Linked DNA regions of Homo sapiens. The protein of the gene in region 3 purifies or fractionates together with the protein of the main gene of each other region. This does not show direct contact. Each region holds a gene or a part of one and is shown on either strand. Other genes may lie near its edges. The genes, in order: BCL7A, PBRM1 and PHF10.

The links.
Region 1: the proteins of PHF10 (region 3) and BCL7A purify together in Homo sapiens (affinity purification with mass spectrometry; 4 studies listed by BioGRID and IntAct, with this or other methods). This does not show direct contact.
Region 2: the proteins of PHF10 (region 3) and PBRM1 purify together in Homo sapiens (affinity purification with mass spectrometry; 2 studies listed by BioGRID and IntAct, with this or other methods). This does not show direct contact.

What each region holds. Positions count from the first base shown.
Region 1 is NC_000012.12:122,037,771-122,048,394, reverse strand, and holds part of BCL7A (B-cell CLL/lymphoma 7 protein family member A), read right to left. Parts: intron 4,510-10,624; coding exon 4,342-4,509; intron 1-4,341.
Region 2 is NC_000003.12:52,543,541-52,552,211, forward strand, and holds the end of PBRM1 (protein polybromo-1), read right to left. Parts: exon of another isoform or gene 8,670-8,671; intron 7,278-8,669; coding exon 7,207-7,277; intron 7,098-7,206; coding exon 6,881-7,097; coding exon of another isoform or gene 6,861-6,880; exon of another isoform or gene 6,751-6,860; intron 4,696-6,750; coding exon 4,523-4,695; 3' UTR 1,827-4,522; downstream 1-1,826. UniProt on the Homo sapiens protein: Involved in transcriptional activation and repression of select genes by chromatin remodeling (alteration of DNA-nucleosome topology). Required for the stability of the SWI/SNF chromatin remodeling complex SWI/SNF-B (PBAF).
Region 3 is NC_000006.12:169,718,991-169,730,018, forward strand, and holds the start of PHF10 (PHD finger protein 10), read right to left. Parts: upstream 5,511-11,028; 5' UTR 4,942-5,510; coding exon 4,855-4,941; intron 2,122-4,854; coding exon 2,015-2,121; intron 1-2,014. UniProt on the Homo sapiens protein: Involved in transcription activity regulation by chromatin remodeling. Belongs to the neural progenitors-specific chromatin remodeling complex (npBAF complex) and is required for the proliferation of neural progenitors.

The DNA.
Region 1 (10,624 bases), on a different chromosome or scaffold from region 3:
CTTTTTAACTGTGTCCATCACAGCGGTGACTATGAACTCAAAAGCCCCATGAGGGGCCAGGCAATACCACAAATGAGTCAAGTGGGCTGTTGGATTCAGACATAGATAAGCTTCACAAATAAAATGTTAAGAAATACTCTCTTCAAATATGTACTTTCCCAGTTTTCTTAAAAAAAAAAAATAGCTTTCTCAGCCTAGGCGCAGTGGCTCACGCCTATAATCCCAGCACTTTGGGAGGCCGAGGCGGGCGGATCACCTGAGGTTGGGAGTTCAAGACCAGCCTGACCAACATGGAGAAACCCTGTCGCTACTAAAAATAAAAAGTTAGCCGGGTGTGGGGGTGCATGCCTGTAATCCCAGCTACTCTGGAGGCTGAGGCAGGAGAATCGCTTGAACGCGGGAGGTGGAGGTTGTGGTGAACCAAGGTTGCACCATTGCACTCCAGCCTGGGCAACAAGAGCGAAACTCCGTCTCAAAAAAAAAAAAAAAAAAAAAGCCTTCTCCAGCCTTTTTCTTTTCCACTTTTCCACCTCCACTTCTGATAGAGAAATAGCTTCAAGAAACATCTTGGCTGGGTGTGGTGGTTCACATCTGTAATCTCAGCACTTTGGGAGGCCAAAGTGGGAGGATCACTGGAGCCCAGAAGTTCAAGACCAGCCTGGGCAACATAGCAACACCCCGTCTGTACAAAAAACTATAAACATTACCAGGGCATGGTGGTGCATGTCTGTAGTCCCAGTTACTTGGGAGACTGAGGCAGGAGGATCACCTGAGCCCAGCAGTTCAAGGCTGCAGTGAGCGGAGATTGTACCACTGCACTCCAGCCTGGGCAACAGTGAGATCCCATTTCTTTTTTTCTTTTTTTTTTTCTGAGACGGATTCTCGCTCTGTCGCCCAGGCTGGAGTGCAGTGGTGCGATCTCGGCTCAACACAAGCTCCGCCTCCCGAGTTCACACCATTCTCCTGCCTCAGCCTCCCGAGTAGCCGGGACTACAGGCGCCCAATACCATGCCCGGATAATTTTTTTGTATTTTTAGTAGAGACGGGGTTTCACCATGTTAGCCAGGATGGTCTCAATCTCCTGACCTTGTGATCCGCCCGCCTCAGCCTCCCAAAGTGCGGGGATTACAGGCATGAGCCACTGCGCCCGGCCAAGACCCCATTTCAAACAAACAAACAAAAACCAAGAAATAGTCCAGGCGTGGTGGTTCACACCTGTAATCCCAGCACTTTAGGAGGCCGAGGTGGGTGGATCCCGAGGTCAGGAGATTGAGAACAGCCTGGCCAACATGGTGAAACCCCATCTCTACTAAAAATACAAAAATTAGCCGGGCGTGGTGGTGCACGCCTGTAAACCCAGCTACTCACGAGTCTGAGGCAAGAGAATCACTTGAACCTGGGAGGCGGAGGTTGCAGTGAGCCGAGATCACGTCATTGCACTCCAGCCTGGGCGACAGAGCAAGACTCCGTCTGGAAAAAAAAAAAAAAAACCCAAGAAATATCTTAATTTTCCTTTTAAAATCTACAATAAGAAAAACAACAGTGGCCATGAGGTAACACAAGGCAAGCGCCCTTTGGCCTTGGTTTAGAGACAACAGGGAAGGGTCTCTTCTGCTTCAGCTGGTAACTGCCCCAGGGAAGAGCAGGCCCGGTATTGTCAAAGCTGATTCTTCAAAAGAAGCTAGAAATCAATCCTGTTTTAAGCTCAATTTTTAAATTTTGACATCACATTCAAATTTAAAAAATGATACTGCAGGGTTCTGTATAGCCAGATTCTCACACCACGGGCTGGATAGAGTCTGTCTGCATCTCTGCCAATGAGTCCTTCGTTCCAGTGTCTGTCTCCCCTGCTGACCTATGGGTTCTTGGGGTGCAGGAAGCAGAGTGCAGCTATGACTGGGGCCCTGGCGCCAGCCCAGAGCCTCCTTGCACAGGGGTGCGGATCAGCTCTGCAGCAGGGGACAGCCTTTCTCCTAGAACCACACTGGCTGCTCCCAGGACACACACGCCCTGAGCCCTGGGGTGGCCCTAGCTGCAGGCTGGTCACATTTGCCATTCCACATTCCATGCTCGCCAGCTCCTCATGGGTGTGCAAGGCGCTCCAGACCTGGCCTGCCCTCCCCAGACCCGCTCAGCCACTGCTGTCCCTCCAGGTGCCCAGAGTTGCCCTCAGGTCCGCACTCACCCCTATGTACTGCCCAACACAGGCTCTCCCCTCACCTTCAAAATATACCTCCATGTTAGACCATCCGGAATGCTGCTCATTTTCTTAGATGCAGTAACGGTATTTGTAAATCTGTAAGAGAATGCCTTTTTTTTTTTTTTTTTTTTTTTAGCAAGGTCTCACCCTGTTACCCAGGCTGGAGTGGTGCAATCATGGCTCACTGCAGCCTCGACCTCTCAGGTTCAGTCGATCCTCCTGGGACTACAGGCGCATGCCACCATGCCGGGCTCATTTTTATATTTTTTGTAGAGACGGGGTTTCGTCTTCTTGCCTAGGGTGGTCTTGAACTCCTGGGCTCAAAAGATCCTCCTGCCTCAGCCTCCCAAAGTGCTGAGATTATAAGCATAAGCTACTGTGCCCAGCCCAGAATGTCTTTATTTTTAAAAGACACGTGCTGACATGTTTAGGGATGAAATGTCCTGAGATCTATAACTTACTTTCAAATGGTCCCAGAAAAAATACAAAGCAAAAGAAACCCAAAAGCCAACAATTGCCAAGTTCAGCAGGTGGATATATAGGACAGTATTATGCCATTCTTTTAATTTTTCTGTAGAGACTCAAAATAAACACACACAAATATTTGTGTACACATTCACACAATCACACACACACTCTCACACAATCACCCCATCATCTGTTCTTAATCCTTCAGATCATGTCACCCAAGCCCCCAGTGGCTCCCGTCTTACCATGAAAACCCAGGCCAGGCAGTGGCCTTACGAGCCCCCCACACCTGAGGCGCTGCCTGCTGTCTGACCCCGTATTATTATTAACTTTTTAAAATTTTTCTGAGACAGAGTCTTGCTCTATCGCCCAGACTGGAGTGCAATGGCACAATTTCGGCTCACTGCAACCTCCGCCTCCTGGGTTCAAGTGATTCTCTTGCCTCAGCCTCCTGACTAGCTGGAATTACAGGCACATGCCACCACACTCTGCTAATTTTTGTATTTTTAGTAGAGACAGGGTTTCACCGTGTTGGCCAGGCTGGTCTTGAACTCCTGACCTCAAGTGATCCGCCTGCCTCGGCCTCCCAAAGTGCTGGGATTACAGGCGTGAGCCACCGCGCCTGGTGCCCATCTTATTTTCCAGCTCCTCACTCACTCTTACCTCTGCCCACACTGCTCTCCTCCCAGATCCCCACATGGCTTGCTCAGTCGCCCAGTTTGAGCCTTGTCTTATTCAAAGGCCGCCCCGACCACCCCATTTAAAACTGCAACTCTCCAGGTCATTCAGCAAGACCCCCCACCCCTTTCCTACTTTATAATTCTCTGCCACACTTATCTTCCTAATACTAGGTTGTCTGATTTTTAAATACATTTAAAATTTATTAATATAATTATATTTTGAGCCAGGGTCTCACTCTGTCACCCAGGCTGGAGTTCAGTTGTGTGATCACGGCTCACTGCAGCCTCCAACTCCTGAGCTCAAGGGATACTCCCGCCTCAGCCTCTTGAGTAGCTGGGACCACAGGCACATGCCACCATGCCCAGCTCATCTTAAAGCATTTTTTTGTAGAGACAGGGTCTTGCTATGCTATCCAGGCTGGTCTCAAACTCTTGGCCTCAAGTGATCCTCCTGCTTCAGCCTTCCAAAGCATTAGGATTATAGGTGTGAGCCACCATGCCTGGCCAATTGTTTGATTTTTATTTATTTACTTATTATTGAGACAGGGTCTTATTGTCACCCAGGCTGGAGTGCGGAGGCATGATCATGGCTCACTGTAGTAGTCTTGACCTCCTGTGCTCAAGTGATCCTCCGACCTCGGCCTCCTGAGTAGCTGGATCACAGGTGTGTGCCACCACACTTGGCTATTTTTTTTTTTTTGGTAGAGATGAGGTCTTGCTATGTTGCCCAGGCTGGTCTTGAACTCCTAGGCTCAAGCAGTCCTCACACCTTGGCCTCCTAAAGTGCAGGGATTACAGGCATGAGCCACTGCACCTGGCCTGTCTGATTTTTTTAATTCCCCCACGAGACCATGTACTCCAGGTGTCACCTCTCTTTACTGTCTCCTTGCTGGGGCTGGCACATGACAGGGCCTCCTGGAACACCTAGCCACAGACTGCCTGAAGGCCGGTTACAGGGAGGCCGTCAGAGCCCCACCTCCAGAGGCCACATACCTTCAGCTCCTGGGTGCTCCTTCCCATCAGCCTGGGCCTCATCCACCTTGGCCTCGGTGCCGTCGCTGGGCACAGCCGAGTTGGGCTCTGGAGCGGGGCTGGAGTTGCTGCTGTTCTCCTGTTTGATGGGGGAGGCATCTGCGATGGAGCTCTGGTTGCTGTTATCGTCTGTAGGGGGTGGGAACAGAACCACAGGATGAAATCCCACAGCTGCCAAGGACGGGTAGGTCAGAGGGCTCAGCATCCCTGTGCCTCAATGCCCGGAACCCCATGGCAGCTCTCCCGGGGAGGGGTCTGGTTACCGTTTTTTTTTTTTTTGAGACGGATCTCGCTCTGTCAACCAGGCTGGAGGACCGTGGTGCAATCTTGGCTCACTGCCTCCACCTCCCGAGTAGCTGGGATTACAGGTACTTGCCACCACGCCTGGCTAATTTTGTATTTTTAGTAGAGATGGGGTTTCACCATGTTGGCCAGACCCGTCTCGAACTCCTGACCTCAGGTAATCCTCCTGCCTCGGCCTCCCAAAGTGGTGGGATTACAGGCGTTGAGCCACTGCACCCGGCCGTGTGGTAGGGGTCTGGATACTGGATACGCCTCCTCCTGGGACCCCTGAGCTCACTCCCGCCCCCTGACCCCCACCCACCCACCCACCCAAGCACCACAGCCATCCCATGTGTCCAGAGAGGCAAAGAATTCCGGCACTGGCCTGACCTTCCCCACACTGAGCCAACTGTACCCTGCGTCTGGAGGCAGCCAGCTGGGGATGGTGGCCTAACATATTTAAAATCCTGGGGGGACATTTGAGGCCTCATTCTGGGTGTAGAAACCAGACGTCTTGTGTGTCTGGCAGGGAAGCGATACAGAAGACACGGCATGGTCCGTGAGGCGGGATTGCCAAGGCGTTCTGTCTGACTGCATCCAGCCTGGAGCTGAGTTCCACTTGATAGGAAATAAAAGGGAGAGAGAGACAGCGGGAGGTGGCATATTCCACGGGACACGTGGTCCACTCCCTTAAAGTCAGTATCATATTTAAAAAAAAAAAAAAGTTGGGGGAGGGGAGATGACTTTAGAATAAAGAAAGCTAGGAGACTCGACTAAATATGATGTATGGAAATGATTTGGATCCTGTTTCAAACGTGCCAGCTGTAACACTTTGGAACAATTGGGGAATTTGAATATGGTCTGGGTTTTAAAAGCTATTAAGGAACTGTTGTTAATTTAGTTAGAAGTGATCATGGGACAGTGGGTATGTAGAAACGTCATATTTTCAGCAATGCATGCTATGACGTTTAGGTGCAGACTTGAATGTCATGAGGCAGGGAAATTTACCAGAAAATACTTCAGTGCAGGCTGCCGGCCACTGTCAGGACTCCCTGAACTTTTACACTTTTTTTTTTTTTTTTTGAGATGGAGTCTTGCTCTGTCGCCCAAATTGGAGTGCAATGGCGCGATCTGGGCTCGCTGCAACCTCCACCTCCTGGGTTCAAGCAATACTCCTGCCTCAGCCTCCCAAGTAGATTACAGGCGCCTGCCACCATACCTGGCTGAGTTTTGTATTTTTTAGTAGAGACGGGTTTCTCCATGTTGGCCAGCCTGGTCTCGAACTCTTGGCCTCAGGTGATCTGCCCACCTCAGCCTACCAAAGTGCTGGGATTACAGGTGTGAGCCATCACACCCGGCCACTAGCTGTGTATTTTTTATATGTGAATTATATTTTAATTACAAAAATCTAACACATTGAAAAAATAGATGAGACAAATGTGGCACCGTGTTCATGAAAATCAAGGTGGAGTGTACAGGGGGATCGTATTCCTCTCTCTACTGTTCTTGACAACAAAACCCTTCACAATACAAAGAAGAAAGAGAAGGGGTAATTGGGCAATGGCATTTACAGTTGGGCTGGGGGCAGAGCTGGGGCCCGGGCTGCACCTCCCCTTGTCCTGCACCCCCTTCTCAGGCACAGAGTCACTCTATTTATTTTTTTGAGATGGAGTCTGTCACCCAGGCTGGAGTGCGGTGGCGCGATCTCGGCTCACTATAATCTCCACCTCCTGGTTCAAGCGATTCTCATGCCTCAGCCTCCCAGGTAGCTGGGATTACAGGCATGCACCAACATGCCCAGTTAACTTTTGTTTTTATTATTTTTTAGTAGAGACGGGGTTTCGCCATGTTGGTCAGGCTTGCTCTTGAACTCCTGACCTCAGGTGATCTGCCCGCTTCAACCTCCCAAAGTGCTGGGATTACAGGAGTAAGCCACCACACCCAGCCATTTATGTATTTTTTATTTTTAGAGACAGGGTCTTGCTCTGTTGCCCAGGCTGGAGTACAGCAGCACAATCATAGCTCACTGCAGCCTCGAACTCCTAGGCTCAAGCCATCCTCCTGCCTCTGCCTCCTGAGTAGCTGGGGCCACAGGCATGTGCCACTGCATCTGGCTAATTTTTAAGTTTTTTGTAGAGATGGGGTCTCACTATGTTGCCCAGGCTGTCTTGGACCCCTGGGCTCAAGTGATCCTCCTGTCTTGGCCTCCCAAAGCACTGAGATCATAGGCCTGAGCCACTGTGCCCAACCTAGGAGAGTCGTTTTAAACAGCAGAGACCCAAGTGGAGGTTTCAAAACCAAAGCAGCCTTTCTGGGGGCCATGCTGCACCCGGGGCGATGGCCACTTTTGTAAACATGAGAAAGAGACAGAGACACCCCAACAGACCTGGGCACCTGCCACCATGCCAGGCACTGGGCAGAAGCATTTATGGACACCTCGTGGAATCCTCCCCACAACCCGTTGGAAAGGCACCGTTACCACCTTCACTTTCCGGAGGGGGAAACTGAGGCTGGGAGCAGCAGAGCCACTTGCCGGACCCATCTGCCCAACTCCCAGCCCCACGCCCCTCCTCTACCTCAACCTGCCGAGGAAGCACCAGGCAGTCAGGCGGCCCCACACGGGTAACCTGGATCTGATTTTAACTGTACTCTGGGGTGCTCGTTACACAAAAGCATCCTCTTGTGAATTCTGGGACTTAAAAAAAAAAAAGAAGGATGTGTGCTCCCCGATTTCTCCCTTGAGAAAAACTAGACTTCCTTCCTATGGCAAGCACACGCGCAAGAGGCTGGCCCCGTAGGTTCCTGAGGCTCTGTTAATGAATGACAATGAGCACTAATGTTTAACGTCTGGTCTAGCCTGGTAGCCTGGTAACAGCGTGACCCTGATACTTGGGCTAACTTCAGCTGAGTCTTGTGGACTAAAGGGCCCGGGGCACCGCCCTCTCCTTCATCCCCTGCTGTACCCATCCTCCCACTTGAAGCCTTCCAGAAAACTTGCCCGGCCCACACCTTTCCCTGACCTTCCCATTTACACACTCTGCAGTCTGACTGGCTTTCGGCTGCACGTGCACTAAAATGAAAATCAGAAAGTCAACAGGGCACCTGTGTCTGGGGACCTGGTTTGTTCAGCATCCTAGATTTTTCTGGAGAGTTTATCCAGGTCACAAATCTGGATCTTTTGGTTTTTTTTTTTTTTTTTTGGAGACACGGCCTCACTCTCTTGCCCAGGCTGGAGTGCAGTGGTGCAATCTTGGCTCACTGCAACCTCCCCTTCCCGATTCAAGGGATTTTCCTGCCTCAGCCTCCCGAGTAGCTGGGATTACAGGTGCCCACCACCATGCCCGGCTAATTTTTGTATTTTTAGTAGAGATGGGGTTTCACCATTGTTTGGCCAGGCTGCTCTCCAACTCCTGACCTTAAACGATCCTCACAACTTGGCCTCCCAAAGTCCTAGGATTATGGGTGTGAGCCACCACGGCCAGCCACAAACCTGGATTCTGTCTTCAAAGAACCAACCTCAAATGCCATCAATGGCACTGGAAGTTATGAACTTGCTAACCATGCATGTTACTTCACCTCACTGGGCCTTAGTTTCTCCATCTGTAAAATGCGGTTGGTTATTAGACTCAAATGAGGCAATGATGTAACGGGCTTAGCACAATACTTGGCACATTGTGACGGTTTCATAAATGTGAGCTGTTAACATGCCAAGGTTTTTAAAATTTTTATTATAGGCTGGGCACAGTGGATCATGCCTATACTCCCAGCACTTTGGGAGGTTGAGGGAGGAGGATTGCTTGAACTCAGGAGTTTGGAAACAGCCTGGGCAACATAGCAAGACCCTGTCTCTATTTTTGAATACAGTAAAATAATTTTTTTTTTTTATGGAGTCTTGCTCTGTCGCCCAGGCTGGAATGCAGTGGCATGATCTCAGCTCACTGCAACCTTTGCCTCCAGGTTCAAGTGATTCTCCTGCCTCAGCCTCCCAAGTAGCTGGGATTACAGGCGTGTGCCACCACACCCAATAATTTTTGTATTTTTAGTAGAGATGGGATTTTACCATAGAGACCAGGCTGGTCTCCAACTCCTGACTTCAAATGATCCTCCCATCTCGGCCTCCTAAAGTGCTGGGATGACAGGCATGAGCCACCACACCTGGCCCAAAATAAAATATTTACTATAATTATATTATATATTATATTATATAATATATATAATATATATATTATATATATATATATATTTAAGAGATGGGGTCTTGCTCTGTTGCCCAGAGTGGAATGCAGTGGTGCAATTACTGTTCACTGCAGCCTCCAACTCCCAGGTTCAAATGATCCTCAGCCTCCAGAGTAGCTGTGACTATAGGTGCGCATCACCACAACCTGCTAATTTAAATTTATTATTATTATTATTTTTTTTTTTAATCTATTTTTTTTTAGACTGAGTCTTGCTCTGTCGCCCAGGCTGTAGTGCAGTGGCGTGATCTTGGCTCACTGAAAGCTCCACCTCCCAGGTTCACGCCATTCTCTTGCCTCAGCCTCCCGAGTAGCTGGGACTACAGGCACCAGCCACCACGCCTGGCTAATTTTTTTGTATTTTTAGTAGAGATGGGGTTTCACCGTGTTAGCCAGGATGGTCTCGATCTCCCAACCTCATGATCTGCCCGCCTTGGCCTCCCAGAATGCTGGGACTATAGATACGAACCACCTATTGTTTTTTTTGTAGAGATGAGGTCTCCCTGTGTTGCCCAGGCTGGTCTCAAACTCCTGGGCTCAAGTGATCCTCCTAACTCGGCCTCCCAAAGTGCTGGGATTACAGGTGTGAGCCACTGTGCTTGGTCCCATGCCAAGGTTTTTAAGAGATTATTTAATTTAATCCTCACAGTGAGTTTATGAAGTAGGCATTACCATCCCCATTCTACAGATTAAAACTAAACAAACCCCAAAGCTAGAGGTTAAACAAATAGCCCAAGATCACACAGCCAGGGGAAGGTGCAGGGAGAGTTAGGATGTGAACCCAGGTGGGGTCCTGGCCTCAGCTCGAAAAGGCCCTCTGGTGTAATTCTGCGTCTGTAATCCAACCTCAGTCCTGAGTCGGGCGTGGGGTCTCCCCAGTCCCCAGAGGGAAAGGGGATGCTAAGGAATGCCACTGAGACAGGCCACATCCCAGCTCACATATCTATTTCTGAAAATGAAACATAACCCAACTATGATTGTATGGCTGGTTGGGGGGGCTTTCTTGACACATTAACCAGCAACAAAGCCCCACTGCTCTTTTTTTTTTTTTTTTTTTTTTTTTTTTGAGGCAGAGTCTCGCTCCTTTGCCCAGGCTGGAGTGCAGTGGCCTGATCTTAGCTCACTGCAGCCTCCGCCTCCCAGATTCAAGCGATTTTCTTGCCTCAGCCTCCTGAGTAGCTGGGATTACAGGCACACGCCATCATGCCCAGCTAATTTTTATATTTTTAGTAGAGATGGGGTTTTGCCATGTTGGCCAGGCTGGTCTTGAACTCCTGGCCTCAAGTGACCCGCCCACACCAGCCTCCCAAAGTGCTGGGATTACAGGCGTGAGCCACTGTGCCTGGCTCCCACTGTGCGTTTCTTTTTTCTTTTTTTGAGACGGAGTCTCACCCTGTTGCCTGGGCTGGAGTGCAGTGGTGCGATCTCGGCTCACTGCAGCTTCTGCCTCCTAGGTTCAAGCGATTCTCCTGCCTCAGCCTCCTGAGCAGCTGGGATTACAGGTGCCCGCCACTACACCCAGCTAATTTTTTGTATCTTTTTTCTTTTTTGAGATAGTTTCACTCTTGTTGCCCAGGCTGGAGTGCAATGGCGCAATCTCCGCTCACCGCAACCTCTGCCTCCTGAGTTCAAGCGATTCTCCTGCCTCAGCCTCCCGACTAGCTGGGATTACAGGCACGCGCCCCCACGCCTGGCTAATTTTGTAAATTTTTTAGTAGAGACAGGGC
Region 2 (8,671 bases), on a different chromosome or scaffold from region 3:
AGTATGATCCCAGCACTGCACTCTAACCTGGGCAATGGAGTGAGACCCTGTCTCCAAAAAAAAAAAAAAAAAAAGCCGTGAAAAGAATTGCAGTACCACCAACTGTAAACTACAGGGCATAAATTTTAATAAATTTCAAGAACTATACTTATTGCAGAATGCTGAAAACCTGATTAGCATTTATTACTAGAACTCTACCTCCACTGTGGTGTTGGGGAAAGAATATGGGCTTTGGAGTGTCACTTTATTATCTGAATTTATAGAGAAAGTACCTAATAATAGTACAACAGTATTACAGCCCCCCCCAAAAAAAGAAAGAAAAAAAGTAGTGAATAAATGAGTTATTTTTGTTCATCTAGCAGTTCTATTTTGGAAGTCTTACCTACATCCCTGATGTGATATTTAATCTCCATTTTGTGTGTGTGTTTAAATTTTTCACACTGAATTAACTCTCTTTAAAGAAATATACTCTTAGCTGGGCGCGGTGGCTCACGCCTGTAATCCTAGCACTTTGGGAGGCCGAGGCAGGCGGATCACGACATCAGGAGATCAAGACCATCCTGGCTAACACAGTGAAACCCCATCTCTACTAAAAACACAAAAAATTAGCCGGGCGTGGTGCTGGGCGCCTGTAGTCCCAGCTACTCAGGAGGCTAAGGCAGGAGAATGGCGTGAACGACAACAACAAAAATATATATATATACGCACACACACACTCTTGGACCCTGTTGTTTTCCAAAGTAATTTATCTCCTAGTAAAGCATGTTAGTGCTTAGTCTTCACACGAGTATTAAATCTGGAGTTTCTTGTCTCATTTATGTGCTATCTGCAAGATGTAAATACCATGAAATAGCCAAAACAGGGAAAAGGGACAGTCCATTAATTTGTTTAGTTCTGAACTTTCATTCAGGGACCTAACATACTTCCAGGCTAAAATGGAACAGAGTAGGCTGGGCGCAGTGGCTCACACCTGTAACCTTAGCACTTTGGGAGGCTGAGGCAGGTGGATCACTTGAGGCCAGGAGTTCAAAACCAGCCTAGCCAATATGGAGAAACCCTGTCTCTACTAAAAATTCAAAAATTAGCCAGGCATGGTGGCGCATGCTGCAGTGAGCCAAGGTTGCACCACTGCACTCCAGCCTGGGTGACAGAGTGAGGTTCCGTCTCAAAAGAAAAAAAAAAAAGGAACAGAATAATAGCAATATTTGTTTGCTCAGTGTTCAGATGGGATGTCTAGCTATACATCAATGATTGTTCAAAATATGCTCAGGGGCACAGATGCCGGTACTATCCTAAATTCAGGAGAACAGAACCACAGGGATTTGCAAAGTGATATTAGAGGAAAACAGTTGGTTGCTTTTACCAACACTTTCTATTAAAAGCATGGTCATGTTTTAAGAGTTTATAAAGATGTTAAAGACACCTGGGCCACCTGTTTCTTCTGGCCACAGACAAGCTATTTGAAGTGGGCTATACTGCTTACATGCTTTCCTCACTTTCCGCCCTCAGTAATTCTCCAATTTTAATTTCAACCTGCATTTCTGCCCATGCTGAGGACATGTAGGAATTCCTTGACTGCCAGCCTGAGGCGTGGCGTGGGGCACTTCAGTCTGCAGTCTGACTACATTTGGCTCTGTGTTAATGCAGCCCGAGCCCTGAACCAGAGGTCTGGACACTGACTTTCATCTCCATCTGTGGAGCTTTGTTCTCTTAAATTGGCAGTCACATACAACCTTGTCAGCATGAAATCAGGGCTTGCAGGAGTTAAATCTGCTTGAAACATCTGACACCACTTTAACAGAACAACCAAACCTGGTTAATCCAAATCACTTTGCAAACTCTGTATTTATTTGGATTAAAAAGCTTTAGATGAACAACAAAAAAAAGATACATACATGTTATAAGACTAGTTACCACGTAAACCTCAGATGATATGATACAGAAATTAGAATAAACCAAGTTTTAATCAGGTATGAAAACATTCAAGCTCAAAATCATCAACACCAATTTGGGGATTTTACAGAAATAGGTGCCCCTCTCAATTCTTCCTCATAGGAAGGGGAGAGTGGCTTAAAAAAAAAACAACAACCAAAACAGTTAAAGGCCTTTTAAATCAGTTGGCTGACAAACATACTGTTTTAAACCTACAGGTTCCCCTCAGTCCCCCCGTTTGCAATATAAACAATTCTTCTCCACAGGAACTTACATTTTGAAAACATTTAGGCCATTATACTTTCTAAGCCACATTACTACAGTTCCTAAAACTTATGAAAAAAAGGTGTATAGTTTACTTGTACTTTCTTGAGTCAATTTTTTTTTCTTTTTTGAAGATGGCTGACCTCAAATCTTATATCCTAAATATTAACGATATCCCCCAAGTTAATATACAGAAAAACATGATTCTAAAATAAATACACAGGCTTTTTAAAAAAAACTTAATTAGGGCCTGTCTAGTGATGCCCTGGGCCGGTGCTGCACTGCTTTAGGGAAGCCCCTGGCTGGATCTATGTTTCCTATAGCACCTCTAGGCACTGGGAAGGAGCCTGGAGGAGAGCTCTGGCTTCTAATGACCCACGTGGCCCCCAGTGAAAAATTTTTTTAGAGGCTCCCCAAAGAAGTCTCATCCAGACCTTAAGGGAAATAAAATGAATGCATGAAATAAATAAATAATTTAACCACAACTAAATTTCATGTTCTTTGGTGTAATTCAAGGATGTCTAGAAACAAAATAATCTGATTGCATTATACAGTCCATGATGATTCAATTGCCCAAATAGCCAGGAATTGAAGATTTATCTGACTCACTTTAACAATAAGGTACTGACACACTACTGCAATACATTTTTTTAAATTCAATATTATTTAAAATACTTGATGCAAATTCAAATCCAGTGGTTGACTAAAGGCAATTAAGTTAAAGGGCCTCCCATATTTAAAGTATCTAGATACAAGAGACTTTTTTCCATTCTACACTCTTTTGCCCTCATGATTTAATAAGTACAGTAATTAAACATCTGGGTACTGATTCATAGCAGATTAAAAGGAAAAAAGCATCCTCTGAGATTAACTCTCTCAGATTATAAACAGCAGTGGAAGCTCTACCACAATGGCAATCACCCAGTTACTATAAAGCAGGTTTCAAAAACATGCCGCCAAGTGAAACAATGTTCCTACTGTCTGCCATCCTATGCTGCCTTCAAATGTTTATTGTAGGGTCATATAAGAAAGACAGGGTCACCAAACCCAAGTGTTTGGGATCTGTAATGGTCTTTCTAGTAAGCGTTTTATTAAATTATGATTCCCTTCTCCTGTAATTCAAAAGCACAAGCTAAATTTAAAAAATATTTTAGAAAGTATTAAATTTCTGGTTGAGAATTATAACAACATTGAAACTTAAAAGAAAAAATACATCTGATAATAAGGAAATAAGGAATACTAAAACATACTTGTATATGAAGGCAATCAATCTACTTGTTCACAATTATGCTTCTTATACAGCTCATATCTAGTTCCATACTCTCTTACCCATGTTAGGTTAGGTGTTATGTTTAAAAATAAATCACCTCCATGCATACCTTAATGCTTTCTTCAAGACGAACTTCAATGTTTTTCAATGTAACAGGTTTAAAATTTTAAATCATCTGAAATTTATAGGCATAAATTGTGAATTCATTATAAATAGATCAAAATATCCTTAAACGTACCTGCCTAGATTAAACATACCTCAGGGTTGTGCACGTGTTCTGCAAAAATCACTGACACCATAGTCTAACTCACAGATGTCTAACTCAGCACAATTGAAAAAGTGCTTTTTCCCCTCCTGGTGTCCAGGAGGTACATTAGCTGCAGACAGATGCACAGCACTGATTACATATTTCTGTAGTGAGCCTCTGAGTTAATAGAGCAAATGTGCTGTGTCTATTAAACATCTAAAACCTAAATAACCACCTTTCAAAGAAAGCACTTCATCTGTAAGAAACAGCTTTTGCAGAAAGTGGCTTAAGATATTCAGGCACATGAAACAAACACAAGTATACTCCCCTCTCTAAGATGTAAACTAGGACAAACTTCACATTTCATTATCAATTTAAACTAATCTGTAAACTCTTGTGTGTGTGTGTTTTTTTTCATTTTGTTCTTTTATATATATATATAAAAAAACCCAAAACCAAGAAAACAAAAACCCCAAGCCAAGACAAAAACCTCTAATGGTTTCAGTTCCATGGCAACAAGTAAAAAGATAAAACTCCAAGTCTACATATACAACCAATTATGAAACTGGTTTTAAACGAAGGAAACATATGCAAAAAAATCTTTGTGTATTTGATAAAGTCAACTTAATATAACAAACAAATTGAAATAGCTTATTAAAAGTGTCCGTATATAAAAATGGCCTTGTGATGTACAGTAAAATGCAATAAAAATTATCCTCCTTTGTTCCTTCCCCCCACCCCCAGTAACTAAAATGGCTACTGATCCACAACTCTTTATGCTTCTATATAAAAGAAACGTAATGATGTGATTAAACATTTTCTAGGTTGTATGCTTGGCGAATGTTGAGGGTGTCCCGGAGCATCAAATCTCGAAGGCGCCAGAGGGCATCTGCCATGGTGGTGTGGGCCCCTTTGCTTTTCAGCCAGTGAGAGGGTAGGCGGCTCTCCTGTTCTTTCGACAAATGGACGTCGCGTCTTCGAGCTGAAAATTAAAGTACAGAGAGACAGAAATTAGAATTTTAAGTTGGCAAAATTTCCCTCAGTTCTAAGGTCTGACGAACTTATTAAAACACAAAACATTGAATATTTATTAAATATTATGAATTTTAACTGCAGAATATTTCCAGGCACATTTCTTATATCATTTTACTAGGCACTAAAAGATTTGATCATAAATTTTTTTTTTTTTTTGACATCGAGTCTCGCTCTGTCGCCCTCGCTGGAGTGCAGTGGCGCGATCTCAGCTCACTGCAACCTCTACCTCCTGGGTTCAAGCGATTCTCCTGCCTCAGGCTCCAGAGTAGCTGGGATTACAGGAATCTGCCACCAAGCCTGGCTGATTTTTCTATTTTTAGTAGAGACAGGTTTCACCATGTTGGCCAGGCTGGTCTTGAACTCCTGACCTCAGGTGATCTGCCTACCTTGGCCTCCCAAAGTGCTGGGATTACAGGTGTGAGCCACTGCACCCGGCCTGATCATTATTTTTTTGTAGGCATCCCTGATATTTAATAATTACTTCAATGTTAACAAAAATTCCTAAAAAGGTAAACATGTGAAGAAAGGGAAAATATACCTTCTACTCTAAAGAAATGAAATGAGATGACCAAAGTTGGTTTAGAAATCAAGAACAAGTAGAAACTTCCAAACTTCTCTCCAGAAACTACACAAGTACTTTAGTACATACTGAAAATACATAAGTATGTTGAACTAAATGAATAGCCTAATCGGTTTCTAATATTTTTTTCCTTTTGTTAAACTGAGGTAAAATAGTTTTTTTTTTTTTTTTAGACAGAGTCTTATTCTGTCACCCAGGCTGGAGTGCAGTGGTGCGATCTTGGCTCACTGCAACCTCCACCTCCGGGTTCAAATGATTCTCGTGCCTCAGCCTCCCAAGTAGCTGGGATTACAGACACCAGACACCACGCCCAGCTAATTTTTGTATTTTTAGTAGAGATGGGATTTCACCATGTTGGCCAGGATGGTCTTGATCTCCTGACCTCAAGTGATCTGCCCGCTTCAGCCTCCCAAAGTGCTGGGATTACAGGCGTGAGCCACCGCTCCTGGCCCTCATCTGGCTAATTTTTAATTTTTTTGTAGAGACGGGGTTTTGCCATGTTGTCCAGGCTGGTCTCAAACTCCTGAACTCAATCGATCTGTCCACTTCAGCCTCCCAAAGTGGGAGCCACCGTGCCTGGCCAATAATTTTTAATTTACCCAATGCATCTATACTAATGTCCAAATGCCTGAAAAACAAAACAAAACAAAACAAAACAACAAACAAAAAACAATGTACTTAAAAAGATGGCAGTGATGTTTATGAGAAAACTAGGCTTTGAAATTTGGCAAAAAAAACCACAACAACACTTTTAGGCAGGGCGCTGTGACTCATGCCTATAATCCCAGCTCTTTGGGAGGCTGAGGTGAATAGATCACCTGAGGTCAGGAGTTCGAGACCAGCCTGGCCAAAACGGCGAAACCCCATCTCTACTAAAGATAAAAAAATTAGCTGGGCGTGGTGCTGAGCACCTGTAATTCCAGCTGCTCAGGAGGCTAAGACACAAGAATCGCTTGAACCTGGGGGTCGGAGGTTGCAGTAAGTCGAGATTGTACCACTGCACTCCAGCCTGGGCGACAGAGTGAGACTGTCTCAAAAAAAAAAAAACAACCCAAAAACCATTTTCAGGCCAGGCACAGTGGCTCACGCCTGTAATCCCAGCACTTTGAGAGGCCGAGGCAGGTGGATCACTTGAGGTCAAGAGTTTGAGACCAGCCTGGCTGATATGGTGAAACCCCATCTCTACTAAAAATATAAACATTAGCCAGGTGTGGTGGCATGTGCCTGTAATCCCAGCTACTGGGGAGGCTGAGGCAGAAGAATCAGTTGAACCTGGAAGGCGGAGACTGCAGTGAGCCAAGATCGCGCCACTGCACTCCAGCCTAGGCAACAGAGTGAGACCCTGTCTCAAAAACAAAACAAAACAAAACAAACCATTTTCAGTGTGTTACGTAAACATGCAAAGAAACTCCAAACCATTTATGAAATATATAATTTATTTTAATTGTATAAGAAAAAGGGGTGTTTATTGTATGATATACTATGCTAACAGCAGTAAGACAGCTTTGAGGAAGCATGTATTTCACAAAGGCTTATTTAGAAGGAATCTTACCTGCCAGTGTCTGATCCCACTTGCTAATGCTGTTGGACTCCGCACTGAGTCCTTCAATGTATTTCAGGTAGGCCTCTGAGTGAAGAAGCCGCTGGGTCTTTGGTGGGGGAGCTACAAACATGGGTGTTGTTGGCTGCTGTATGACAGGGGGTCCAGCTGGATGTGGGCCGGGATATGGAGGTGGTGCCTGCTGCCCTGGAGGCCCCAAAACTCCCACCTGAAAGAGCACAGGACCACATGGTGAGGCAAAAAGAGACTCTGCACATGTTCTGAGAAGGATAACTCGAATTCTGTCAAGTCCTAGAAAATCAAACTGGGAGGCTCACCTGTTGTCCATATGGACTTCCACCTGGTGCTGGAGTCCCTACCATAGGGGCCACTCCTTGGTTCATCACACCTATAATTCAGAATGCAATGGCACAGTTAGAGGCTCTGGGTTGAAATGACTGAAAAACTACTGTCTGATAAGAAATGATGCCATTCATAATTCAAACCTATGTACCTCTGCCCTTGAATCTTTGTGGCTAGGAATCTTAAGCACCCCAATAGGATTTGAATAGAAAGTTGTTTTGTTTCTAGGTACTTAAAGTATAATACTAGAACAATCTGTCAGATGTACATCAATTATGGCTTAGAAATGATTTGAACCTTGCATAAAATTCTAGTATTTCTCTAGGTAAGCTATTGTCAGAATATACCTCTACATTCAAGGTGTTTTTCTTCTGACAACACATTCTCCTGCAACTGAAGCCTGTATTTAATTTAAGCAGGAATGGCACTGGAATCAGGCTCAGCAGTAAGCAATGTGCTAGGACAGCAGGGACACAAGGGAAGAGGCTGTGGAAGTGCATAGTTAAATGAGCTTTGTGAAGGCTGAAGGCACAGCCTTGCTATCCCCTCCCAGACCATCAGCAGCTGGTTCTAACTGGAGTCACTAGTGCTGGCAGGGAGAGAACACTTCCATCTGATAGAGTAGCACTCTGAAAAGGAATCATCTGAAGTGAAGTAACCTTGTTGCTATTGCTTTATATGCAAAATGACAAAGGAACAGAGAGACTTCATGGCCCTACTAGATTTGTACTATGTCCCTGATAATAATTTTGTAAGCTTCCCTCAGTGAATGCTCACGAGCAATTGTTGTCTCACAGGCACAGCTGATAATAATGAGATGTCCTAAATTTAGTGTCAGAGGCTCTTTTGATTTCAGGGTGCATATTTGCTATTCTGATAAAATACAGAAATAGGCAAGGGACCCAGTTCATTAAAATCAAATAAACCTAAAACTGTGGTGAACTGTTCTTGAAAACTTAAACAAATCCTGCTGGCTGTGTAGAAGAATCGAGAGGAGGTATAACTTCATAGTGTATAGTCCCTTCGGATTAAAAATCGTAATATTTTGTCCAGGCAGAAGCAGCTCCTCATTCTAAAGTTCAGAACTGTTTCATGAATTTGCATGTCATCCTTGTGCCATGCTCAACTCCATATTGTTCCAATTTTAGTGTATGTGCTGCTGAAGCGAGCACTAAGGTTCAGAATTGTTAAATGCCACTTCCAGGAAGCATAAGAGAGCCTCTTATTTGTTAGAAAATAACAAGTAAAAAAGCTTCTGTTTAAAAAGCAGGGAGTTTTATATTCCAAGTACCCAGAAGTCCACCCGGATCACCAAAGTAGGATCCTGATGATTATTCGTGAATGAATGAAGAGGTTGTGGTGGGTAAGCTGGTGCCCCAGCAATATATTATTAACCTCTGTGCCCATCACCTCCCTGTGCCCTGGGACACTCACCCACCT
Region 3 (11,028 bases):
TTTGAAAACTATTTTAAGTATTTAAATTATTTGCCTCCTATGACTTGACTTCCTGTGTATCAAAGAAAATTACAAAACAGGTACAAGGAATAGAAATAATTATCTGGTCTACCAAGTCAAAAAGGTATGTGAAAATAACATCTTTTATACACTGGGAAGAACGTAGAATCACAATTGCTAAGAACGAAGGCATTTTTAGTTTAAAGGACCTATGAGGGCAAAGCAAGGTGATGATGGTATCAGCTCTGACTTCTTTCTCTTGGGCTTAAAATGCATAGCCAGTATTTCATCCACCCAAAGAATAATCAACTTCTGTCTCTTGTCTACTGTTCAGTGAGTCATAAATAGCTGAGAAAACAGAACTCTTAAAAACCTATTATCTCAGTGCATCATATCATAAACCGTAACTGTTTGTTCTCAGATACTCCACAAACCCAGAAGCAAAGAATGGACCTAGTTTGAAGGTGCCAGGGTATCACAGTCGATCTCCATCCTGAGTAACAGAGTACAGATTTCAGGATATGGGCCAATTCAACCTCTATATTGGACATGGGAAAGTGACACTATGTTATGCATCCATCTATTTAAAAAGTAACCTTCAAAAAGAACAGTGTTCTCAAAAATGGTGCTGGGAAACTGGGTATCCACATGCAAAAGTATAAAATTGGACCTTTACCTCATATCACAACTCAAAATGGATCAACAACCTAAATATAAGAGCTAACTAGAAAACTCTTAGAAGAAAACATAGAAATCTTTCACAACCTTGGATTTGAAGGTAGATTCTTACATATGACACCAAAAGCACAAGCAACAAAAGAAAAAATAGATGAAAAATTTGGGCTTCATCAAAATTAAAAATTTTGTACAGGGACACTATCAAGACAGTGAAAAGACAACCCACAGAACAGGAGAAAATATGTGTAAATCATATTTTTGATGAAGTATTAATATATAAAATATATTTAAAAAGCTCCTACAACAAAAAAAACCCCAAATAAAAAATGGACAAAGAACTTGAATAGACATGTCTCCAAAGAAGCTATACAAATGGCCAAGCAGATGAAAAGATGTTCAATATCAGTAGGCATTATGAAAATGCAAATCAAAATCACAATAAAATATCACTCCACACCTTTTAGGGTAACTATTATTTTAAAAAATGAAAAATAACAAATTGGTGAGAAATATGAAGAAACTGGAAACTGTGAATTGCTGGTAGGAATGTAAATTGGTGTGCAGCCCCTATGGAAAACAGTTTGGCAGCTTCTCAAAAAATTAAACATAGGATTACCATATAATCCAGCTACTCCACTCCTAGATAAACATCCAAAAAAACTGAAAACACAAACTCTGAACACCAATGCTCACTGCAGCATTATTCACCTTGGCCAGAAGGTGGAAACCCAAATGCCCATCAACATCTGAATGGATAAACAAAATCAGTATATACATAAAATGGAGTATTATTCAGCCTTAAAAACAGAAAAAAAGTCTGACATATGCTACAAAGATGAACCTTGAAGATATTCAAAGTTCTAAGAGAAATAAGCCAGCCACAAAAGGACAAATATTTTATGGTTCCACTTATATGAAGTAACTAAGTAGTCGTATTCACGGAAATAGAAAGTAGAATGATGGTTGCAAGGCGCTAAATAGAGGGAGAAAGGGAGGTTATTGCTTAATGGTTATAAAGTTTGGGGTAGTGAAAGTTTTGGAAATGGATGGTGGTAATGGCTGCACAACACTGTGAATGTAACTGATGCCAATGAATTTCACACTTAAAAATTGTTAAAATGATTAATTTTATGTATGTATGTATTTTACTATCATAAAATTGCTTTTTAATTACACTCAGTAGCAAGACCAACTTTGATGGCACATTATAGAACAGGAAGAAAATATTCTACAATTTTTAATAATTGCCTTTGCCAGAGCTGGGGGAAAGGGAAGAGGATGTTAAGGCAAAGAGGAACATCACAAAAAATATTAATAACCGATAAAATGACAGTACCCAAGATCTTGACTTGAAGTTTCACAACTCCTAGAACTATCTCCTGAGCCCATTCGCCTCCTTTTGGATGGCTGGGTCCCATCATTTGAATTATCTTCATTATCATCCTATACATTTAAAAGATTCAAAAATAATAATTAGAGAAAGAATAAAAGAACAGTAAGTCTCAATAAATGAAAGACTGTCTAAGGACAACTAGTCATACAAGTATTAACTTCATATTATAATTAAAAGGGTCCAAGAGTTTGGCATGAGCAAGACCTGGAATAAAATTTAAAACTGATCTTCAATCCAATCCAAATAAGAACATTTTCAATGAACCCGTAAATGCAAATCTGCTTTGGTTTCTGCTCTTCATAAACATATCAAACTGCTGCATCACTCTAGGATTAAAGCAAACTCTCCTACCCAAGCTCAGGGGGAAAAAAATGTATGGATCATTTACAGTTCTCAATTCAACTTGAAGCCGGTTCATAGGACTATTTTAATTGACTACTTTAGGCATTTATGTCCCTGTGAAAAGGGGACATATGAGACCGAAAACAATTCTAACTATTCACTCTTCCTCTTACACTGCTAAAATTTAGCAAAAATATACCCTAATAAGGGTCATCAATCTATAATATAGCAGCACACACACCAAAAAAAGAAGCTTGAGAGGGGGAGGGGAATTTTTTTTTTAAAGAAGATTATATATTTTTAATGTAATCCATTATGTGGCAAGAACATCAAGGTTATAAATTCAACCATTTCATTCAGAAAAAGTATCAGATGTTAGGAAATTGATTTATTTACTTATTAGCCAAGGCTTAAAGTCTAAAAATCATAATTTTTTAATGTAATATAGCTTTCAACGCTAATCCAATTTTGCTAAATACTATAGTCCTCTTGCTACATATTAAAATGAAAGCAATCCTGCAAAAGAATATAAAGAGGCAATATGGTATAGTGGCCAGGCATGCCAGAGCTGGACGGCCTGGGTTCTCACTGGGCACTGTCCCTCACTAGCTGAGTAGGTTATTCTCTGTGAGCATCTCCTTATCCGAAAATTTGAGACTATAATAGTGCCCCATTACATGGCTAATTCAATGATTAAACGAGCTACTATATTAAAAGTACTTAGAACAAGGACTGGCGAGTTATCTGATAAATATTAGTTAAAATGATGATTATGATGATAATAAAGTCTCAAATGTCTCTAGCTCCTAGGAATTAACTGGTTCTTTTCCAAATAGTAAAATATATATTCTTTTTCAGTCCTTATAAAATAAGCATTTCATTAAAGAGCTTTGCATAGTCTAAATCTACTCTCTGAAAATTTGCATAAGTATCTGCATACAACTGCAACACTGCATATTCAATACTTTCAACATAACTCATTTTAAACATTCCAGTATTTTTTCTATTTTACTGGTGAGCATTTTAAGGATTTTTATATCCTTAAACTTAAAAACATTTTCCTTTAGCTAAAAAGTTGAGACACTCAAAAATATACAAAAATAAAGTTAAAAATGCAAAGTGCTCAAAAAAGCTGAGACTACAATTTCATCAAGTGTTTTAAATTACTACTACAAATTCTAGGCAAAGGCATTATTATATAAAGTGAGCATCTGGGCAGCGGGCCTTTTTCTTGAGGGAGGTAGTAACAGCAATATTGTTCCCAATACATGACGGAATAAGGTAAGAATTTCCGTGTAACCGCAATACTGATACAGAGGCCCATGTTTTCAAAGACTCCCAAACATACTAAATCAGAGATGTGCCTTCCAGAGTTACAGGTGGTTTCCAACTACAGATCAGATGAATTTCTATGCATCACATCCTTCCTAGGGCTCAGGGGTCAAGAATGCACTCAGGGGGCACTGGCTCAGTGCCCTCCAGGTGCCGGGCCAGACGTCAAATGCTGGAAGTGCAAGGATGTGCATTCAGAGTCTTACAATCTAGTTACTTCCATTGACGACAGCCTTTGAGGAACCTTCAAAATGAGTCTCACAGCACGGTGGACGTGCGCAACGGGAAAAGCTCCCAAGCAGGCGCAGCCCGGCTAGGCTGCTACAGGACGGCTTCCCCTGCCAACGCGCACACGGCACACCGCGCACCGCACGAAGGCTGGCTGGCTCTGCAGCATTCCAGTTCCCACCGCCTTCTAATTTCAATCCAATTTCAAGCTTCCAGGCTTTTAAAACATCATTCCTCCCTTCCAACTTTCTGTCACAAACTGCTAGCCTAACTTTAGAACCAAAACGTTTTGATGCGTGACACTACTGCTCATCTCCATTTTCTCCACAAGCACCAATTTCTTTTCACCTCCTCAAGCAGTAAAAAGTTTTAACAGACTTCCGCTGAAAACATCCGGACGCTTGCGTATTAACTTAGTTATTACAGTAAGTTCACTGAGTGTGTTGATTTTCCATATCGTTCGCCACTCGGTTTTTGCAGTAAGCGTTCAAACACTTCGGCAAACTATGCGCGGAATGAACGCTGAGCGAACGCGCGCTTCTGCAGGCCCCTCCGAGGCCAACTCTCTCGGCCCCGGGCGCGTTCCGTCCCACGGCTGGCCTAGGAGGAGGCGTTTTGGGGACAAGCTTGTCAAGCAGGGCCGGCTGCCAACTTCGGGGAAGCCGCGCCGCGTCCCCCGCCCGCCCGCACTTGTTGCTCGCTAGAGGCCGCGGGCTCACCTCGGGGCCCCGCCTCGCCGACCACCCCCGGTCTCAGGCGCGGCGCCCGGCCTGGGCCCACGCCCCCGAGACGCTGGGCGGCCGCCGGTGGGACTGGGCCCACGCCCCGGCACCCAGGCCCGGGACGGGGTCAGGGTCGGGTCGCACCGGCCGCTTCCTCACCTTCGGGGACTGCGCTCCGGGGGTGGCTGGGTCGCTGTCGCACGGCCGCGGGGACAGCGCAGCCCCGGGCCCGGCCGCCGCCGCCATCAGCCCGAGCGCCCCGCGCCGCCGCCGCCGCCGTCGCCTCCGCCTTGTCCCGGCCGCCGCCGCCGCTGCCGCCGCCGCCGCCGCCGCCGCCGCGCGGGCCCCCCGCCGCCCCGGCCCCGCCCCCTCCGCCCGCCCGCCCGGGGGCCGGCCCCTGCCGCCGCGCGCCCCGCGGCCCGCCAGCGCCGCCGCCACCGCCATGGCCGTCGCCAGCGCGCCGCCCGCGCGGGAGGGCGCCAAAGGCTGGGAGGGCGCGGGGCTGCGGGCCGGAATGGAGGAGGCCCAGCGGCGGCGGCGCTTCTCACGTCAGCCCAACCCGCCCGGCCGCGGCCACCGCCTCAGCACCGTTGCCCCCCACAGCTCCGCCGCTGGCCTCAGCGCCGCCGCGACTCCCTTCAGCCCCGCCACTCGCTCGCCTCAGCCCCGCCGCTCGCTCGCCTCAGCCCCGCGGCCGCCTCAGCCCCGCCGCTCGCCTCAGCCCCGCCGCTCGCCTCAGCCCCGCCGCTCCCCTCAGCCCCGCGGCCGCCTCAGCCCCGCCGCCGCCTGGCTCCCCACGGCCCGGCGTTGTACTCGGCCGCGGCTCCCCCCAGCCCCCGGCGCGCCCCACCTCCCGCCCGCCCTCCGGCCCGCCCCGGCCCGGCACGTCGCCACTTGGCGCGCTCGCAGCCGCCCCCTCCCCGCGGCCCCCGGCCCGGCCCCTCCGCGCGTCACCCTCGTTCCCTCCCTCTCTCCGCGCCCCCGCCGCGCCCCTCCCCGCCCCTCCCGGGGGTCCCCGCCCCGCCCCCTCTCTGCCGGGGGTCGCCCTGCCCGGAGCAGTCGCGCGGAGACTGCGCGGCCTCCGCCTCTACGCGCTCGCGGTCGCCGCTCCTCTCCCGCCTTTGTTCTCGGGTCGCCCCTCTCGCTGGTGGCGCTCCGAGAGAGCAGCGGAGCCACCTGCCCAGGCCACGCTTCCCCGAGCATCCGCAGCTGCACCCGGGGGCTGTCGGCGCCCGCCCCGGAGCGTGCGGGAGGCACAGCGGGAAGAAGTCGCTGAGATTCGGCCCTCGTGGCTTTGCGTGCCCGCGTGGTTGATGCCTCCGCCGAGAACGCGGTCGGCCGGGAGCCGGGGAGGAGCGTGGACGCCGGCCTGGCAGGTACCCCCGCGAGAACGTGGGAGCCGGTGTATTTCAGCTGCATTTATTACTGATCTCGGGCTGCACCAGGGCACTTGTAGGACCGCACTAAAAACAGCGGAAAGTGAGGAGCCAAGCCTGGGTCCGGGGCGGCCCGCCGTACAGCTGGCCTCACGGATTCCACTGCCTGCGCCTGCAGATGACTTGTTCTGGAGAGTAGAGAATGTTCTCGGATTTAAAGTACAATCCGGTTTCCTTTCCATTCATTATAGTTGCCTACACTCAACAAACAAAAGTTGGGAAAGATAAAGGGATTATTCTAGCGCGTCACATTGACAAACACCGACGTTAACACGCTCAGTCCAGCCTGACTCACTTGCCTCAGGTCAGAGAGGTCACCACTGACGACGCCGGGCCCTCAAGCCGATCCTAATCCAGCTTGGTTCTCTCAGCCTCAGCCAGACCATCCGTTCTTGCCTCTGTCCCACCACGTGCAGGTGTAAGCTTCCGCCGCACTTCTTGTCTGAATCTGCCAAGAAGAAACTGCATCTTTCAGCTAAATTCTTTTCACTGATCAGGGTAGAGTTTAGCGGTTTTTTTTTTAAGAAAAAAAACAAAAACAAAAAAAAACTCTTAAGCTATTTGGTACTCCTCTCCCTCCGGGATTCTGTCTCTAGATTGTGAAAGCTGTCAGAGAATGGAGTCAGGGAAAGCCGTGATGGGAAAGTTCTCACTAATAATTGCCTGATATAAAGAATTAGCACAAAAGACTGCCAAAACCACAACCTTGCACAAAGGCCACAAAACTACACAAAAAAATGCTTCAAGGACATTTGCGCAGCAACTGCCTGTCCAACCTTGGACTGGCCATCCCCTTTGTTACTGATCTTTGTAGCCAAGGATAATTGTTTCAAAACAACTTACGTAATCCTCCTCGTTTTTCCTTTTAAACCCCTTATCTTCCTTTACCTCCCTGAATACACCTATAGTTTACTATGACACCATATTCTACATTGCAATGCCCACTTTCAAATAAATTTGTCATGTTTGGCAAACCTGTCTGTTATTTAGGTTGACAAGATCAAATGCAAATTTATTCTGGAGTCAACAAATAACTGATTCAGTCTTCCAATGTGCAAGGCAAAGAAGAATATTAAGGAGACACTGTATAGATTAGATCCCTGCCTATAGGCAGCTTCAACACTAATACAATATGGTACGAATATATAATTGTACTTTAAGGCAGCTTAGGTGGGAAAACAACTAGCAACTAAAAAAAAAAATGGAGTTTACTACCAACTAAAAAAAATGGAGGTTTCAAGGTTGACCTAGAATTTGAAAACTGCTTTAAAGACAGGTAAGAAAGACACAGGTAGATGTGCAATGGAAGTAGAAATTGGGTTTCAAGCCCCAAACAGGCTGAGGGGTGGGAAAATAGACATATTCAGGTACATCAATCGTTCCAGTTTGGCATAAGAATGAGATAAATGAAGATGGATTCTAGGAGTTAAGGATGAAATATGTAGGGAGGTACTATGATGTAATGGAGAGAACAAAGATTTCAAGTTAAGACTTTGGTTTAAATCCCAGCTGTGCCTCTTATTAGCTGTGTGATCAAAGGTAAATTAGTTAATCTCTCTGACCCTCCATTTCCTCATTTGTATGATAACAATAATGTCCAATTATTCCACAAATATTTTATGGCAAGCCAAGTATTAACTAAGAACTATGTTAAATGATGAAGATATAAAAAAACCATTTATTCATTCATTCATCAAATGAATGCCTTACTGTTTACTAAGTTACACCCTGAGTTAGGCCCTGGAAATACTGATAAGGGGGAAAAAAGCATGAAACCGTATGAGACCACTTAGATTATGCAGATATACGTGAAAATAAGGCCCAAGACCAAGAAGTCCAAAGGTACTCAACTTGTGGAAGTAAGATAGAGAAGGAAAAAAAAGAAAACTAAGTGTAAAGTACTGTAAACTGAAAGGAGAGAGTGTTTTAAAAGAGGGACTGGTCAGCTCTCCTAATGGAGAAGTTAGTAAGGTGGCAGAGAAGAATACATTGTATTTATCAACCTGGAGGTAATTAACTGTCTTGACTGTTTCAAGCTATTTCAGCAAAGTGGTGGTTTCAGAAACTAAATTAAAGCAGATTAAGGGAGGAATGGAAGCCTAGGAATTGGAGCCAGAGTATAGACAACTCTTCTGTGTAGTTTTATTATAAAAAGTAATGGAGAAAGAGAGTATCTGGAGAGGTGGTAGGGATGTTTTTAAGATGGAAGACATTAGCACATGTTGGTATACTGAAAAGAATGACTGAGTAGGAAGGCAGAAAACCATGATTGAGCAGAGAGAGGAAATGCTACTGGAAGGCAGCTTGTGAGAAGGCAAGGAAAAATGGGCTCCAGAGCACAGGTATTAGACAGGAAGCAGAATCCACCCAATTTAACAGGAAAGACAGAAGGTGGTCGCAGCTGCAAGCAGGTGAGTGGAAAACTTGAAGGTTTGTTTTTTTGTTTTTTTGTTTTTTTTTGAGACAGAGACTCACTCTGTTGCCCAGGTTGGAGTGCAGTGGCCTGATCTCGGCTCACTGCAAGCTCCACCTCCTGGGTTCACGCCATTCTCCTGCCTCAGCCTCCCAAGTAGCTGGGACTACAGGTGCCCGCTACCACACCTGGCTAATTTTTTGTATTTTTAGTAGAGACGGAGTTTCACCATGTTAGCCAGGATGGTCTCGATCTCCTGACCTCATGATCTGCCTGCCTCGGCCTCCCAAAGTGCTGGGATTACAGGCGTGAGCCACTGCACCCAGCCAACTTGAAGGATTTTTATTTCTGATATATTTTCTTTCCTTCATGAAATATAAAGGGAAAATCAGCTGACAGTTGTGTAGGGGAGAGAGATACAGAAGATCTGAGGAAGAAGGAGGTGTGTCAGCAGGAAAGCAAAGTTTCCAGGATGCCAAGTGTTTTGCCTTCTTGAGAGTTATGGTCATGAATTTAAAGTGAAACTACTCGGTCTGGCTTTGTCAGGTTCTCAGTCAAGTTTACCTACTTGGATTCAGGCTTGGACAAAGTGGATAATGGGGTTCATTCAGGAAGGGGTTTTCCAGGTGAGGAAGAGGGACAAAGAAATTGAAGTCTGTTTGTAAAGGAGTGATTATAATGATGAGCCATGATATCTAAGCTGGACAAGGTAGGAAATTTGAGGGCTATAAATGGTGAAAAAAGCCAATGAACTGGAGATTTCAATAAGATTAGAGAATGGCTGTCTTCGGGGTACTAGAGGTGGTGAGCTGGAAGGACAGGAAATGATTGCATGAGAATAACTTGCTTGAAATAAAGATTTCAGAAGTCATACTAATATTGGCGACAGCAAAGTCTAGAGGGGTAAAAGGCAACTGAATGTGAGTTGGTTAAGGAATTAGAAAGCATACAGCCAGTCCTAGCTTGGCATGGTAGAACATGACTAGAAAAATGACCATGGAAGTTGAAATTGTGCAAAGTGATCTTAATAATCAAAGAGAAAAATTAAAATTGTTCTGTGACACTTAAGAACTTTTGTTGAAACATCAAAAACTCTGTTACTGCTACGTAGACATATCAGGAATTTTTTAAATTGTAAAACTAATTTATTTAGTATGCCATAATTTAAAACATGAGAAACATGGAGAATCAGTCTTTATTCTTTGTGAAAAACAAAAGAAAACAAAACAACTTACCAATAGTAGTGTGAACTGTTTGCCTCTTCTCATACTATTAATCTTCTGTCTTGAAAAATTGTTATTCTGCATTCTAAGTTTAGATTAGCTTCCAACATTTTATCTTTGCATTTTCAATCTTGTGAACTATTCTCAGGAATTCTTTAATACAAAGTGTATCAGCAACACTTCCTGTGGACCTCTTCACCCTTTTGTCACAGCCACTTTAATCTCTTAACATTAATCAATTCATAAAATGATGAAACCAGAATTTACTGGCTGAATAAGGTTTTTATTTAGTCTCTTTGTAATTATCATTTTCTTTCAACAAGACAACCAACTTCAACACTTCACCCGAATGCTAGCCAGACTGATTGGGAAAAAATTTAAATTTATTACAGTCTTCAGTCAAAAGCAGGAAAAAGTCTTTATATCGGCCATAATTTGCATTCTCTTTCTAGTGCAATTTAAACCAAAAGATCCTGAAGCAACTTACCTTGTTTTTTCTACTTACTGAACTTTTTCTCTATGGCTTCTATGGTGCCTTTTGTGTAGGCCGAGGTCTCATCCTATCTTTGCTTTGCTTTTGTCATTTTCAAATTCCCTAATCACATCTAATTTCATTTCTGCATTATTATTTTTTTATTTGCTGTACTTTCATCTTTCTTGGCCAATTCCCTTTTAATGATCCATTTTTGTAAAATATCATGTTAGTTTATCACTGGGAATCAAGGAAGCTATACAACTACATGCTTTGCTGCTTGTAAACTGAAAAACTGAGTAACAGTTGTGCAGTGACCAATAACTGACAGACTCTGAAAGAAGGATTGTGATATCTGCTATGGACTGAATGTTTGTGCCTTACCTGCAAATTCATAAATTGAAGCCCTAATCCCCAGTGTGATGGTATTTGGAAGTGAGAACTTTGGGAGGTGATTAGATTTACATGAGGTCACGAGAGCAGAGTCCCCATGATGGGGATTAATATCCTTTCAAAAAGAAGAAGAGATACAAGATTCATATTCCTTCTCTTTCTCTCTCCCCTGCCCCCACCCCCACCAAGGAAAGACCAGGTAAGGACATAACCAGGAAGAGGGCCCTCACCAAGAACCACCATGTTGGCACCCTGATCTCAGACTTTCAGCCTCTAGAACCTCAATAAAAAATATTTGTTTAAGCAACCCAGTCTAAGGCATTTAATTATATTAGCCCAAGCTAAGACAGTGCCCATCTGTTATTTACATAGTGATCTGTGAACTGAAGAGCTAGC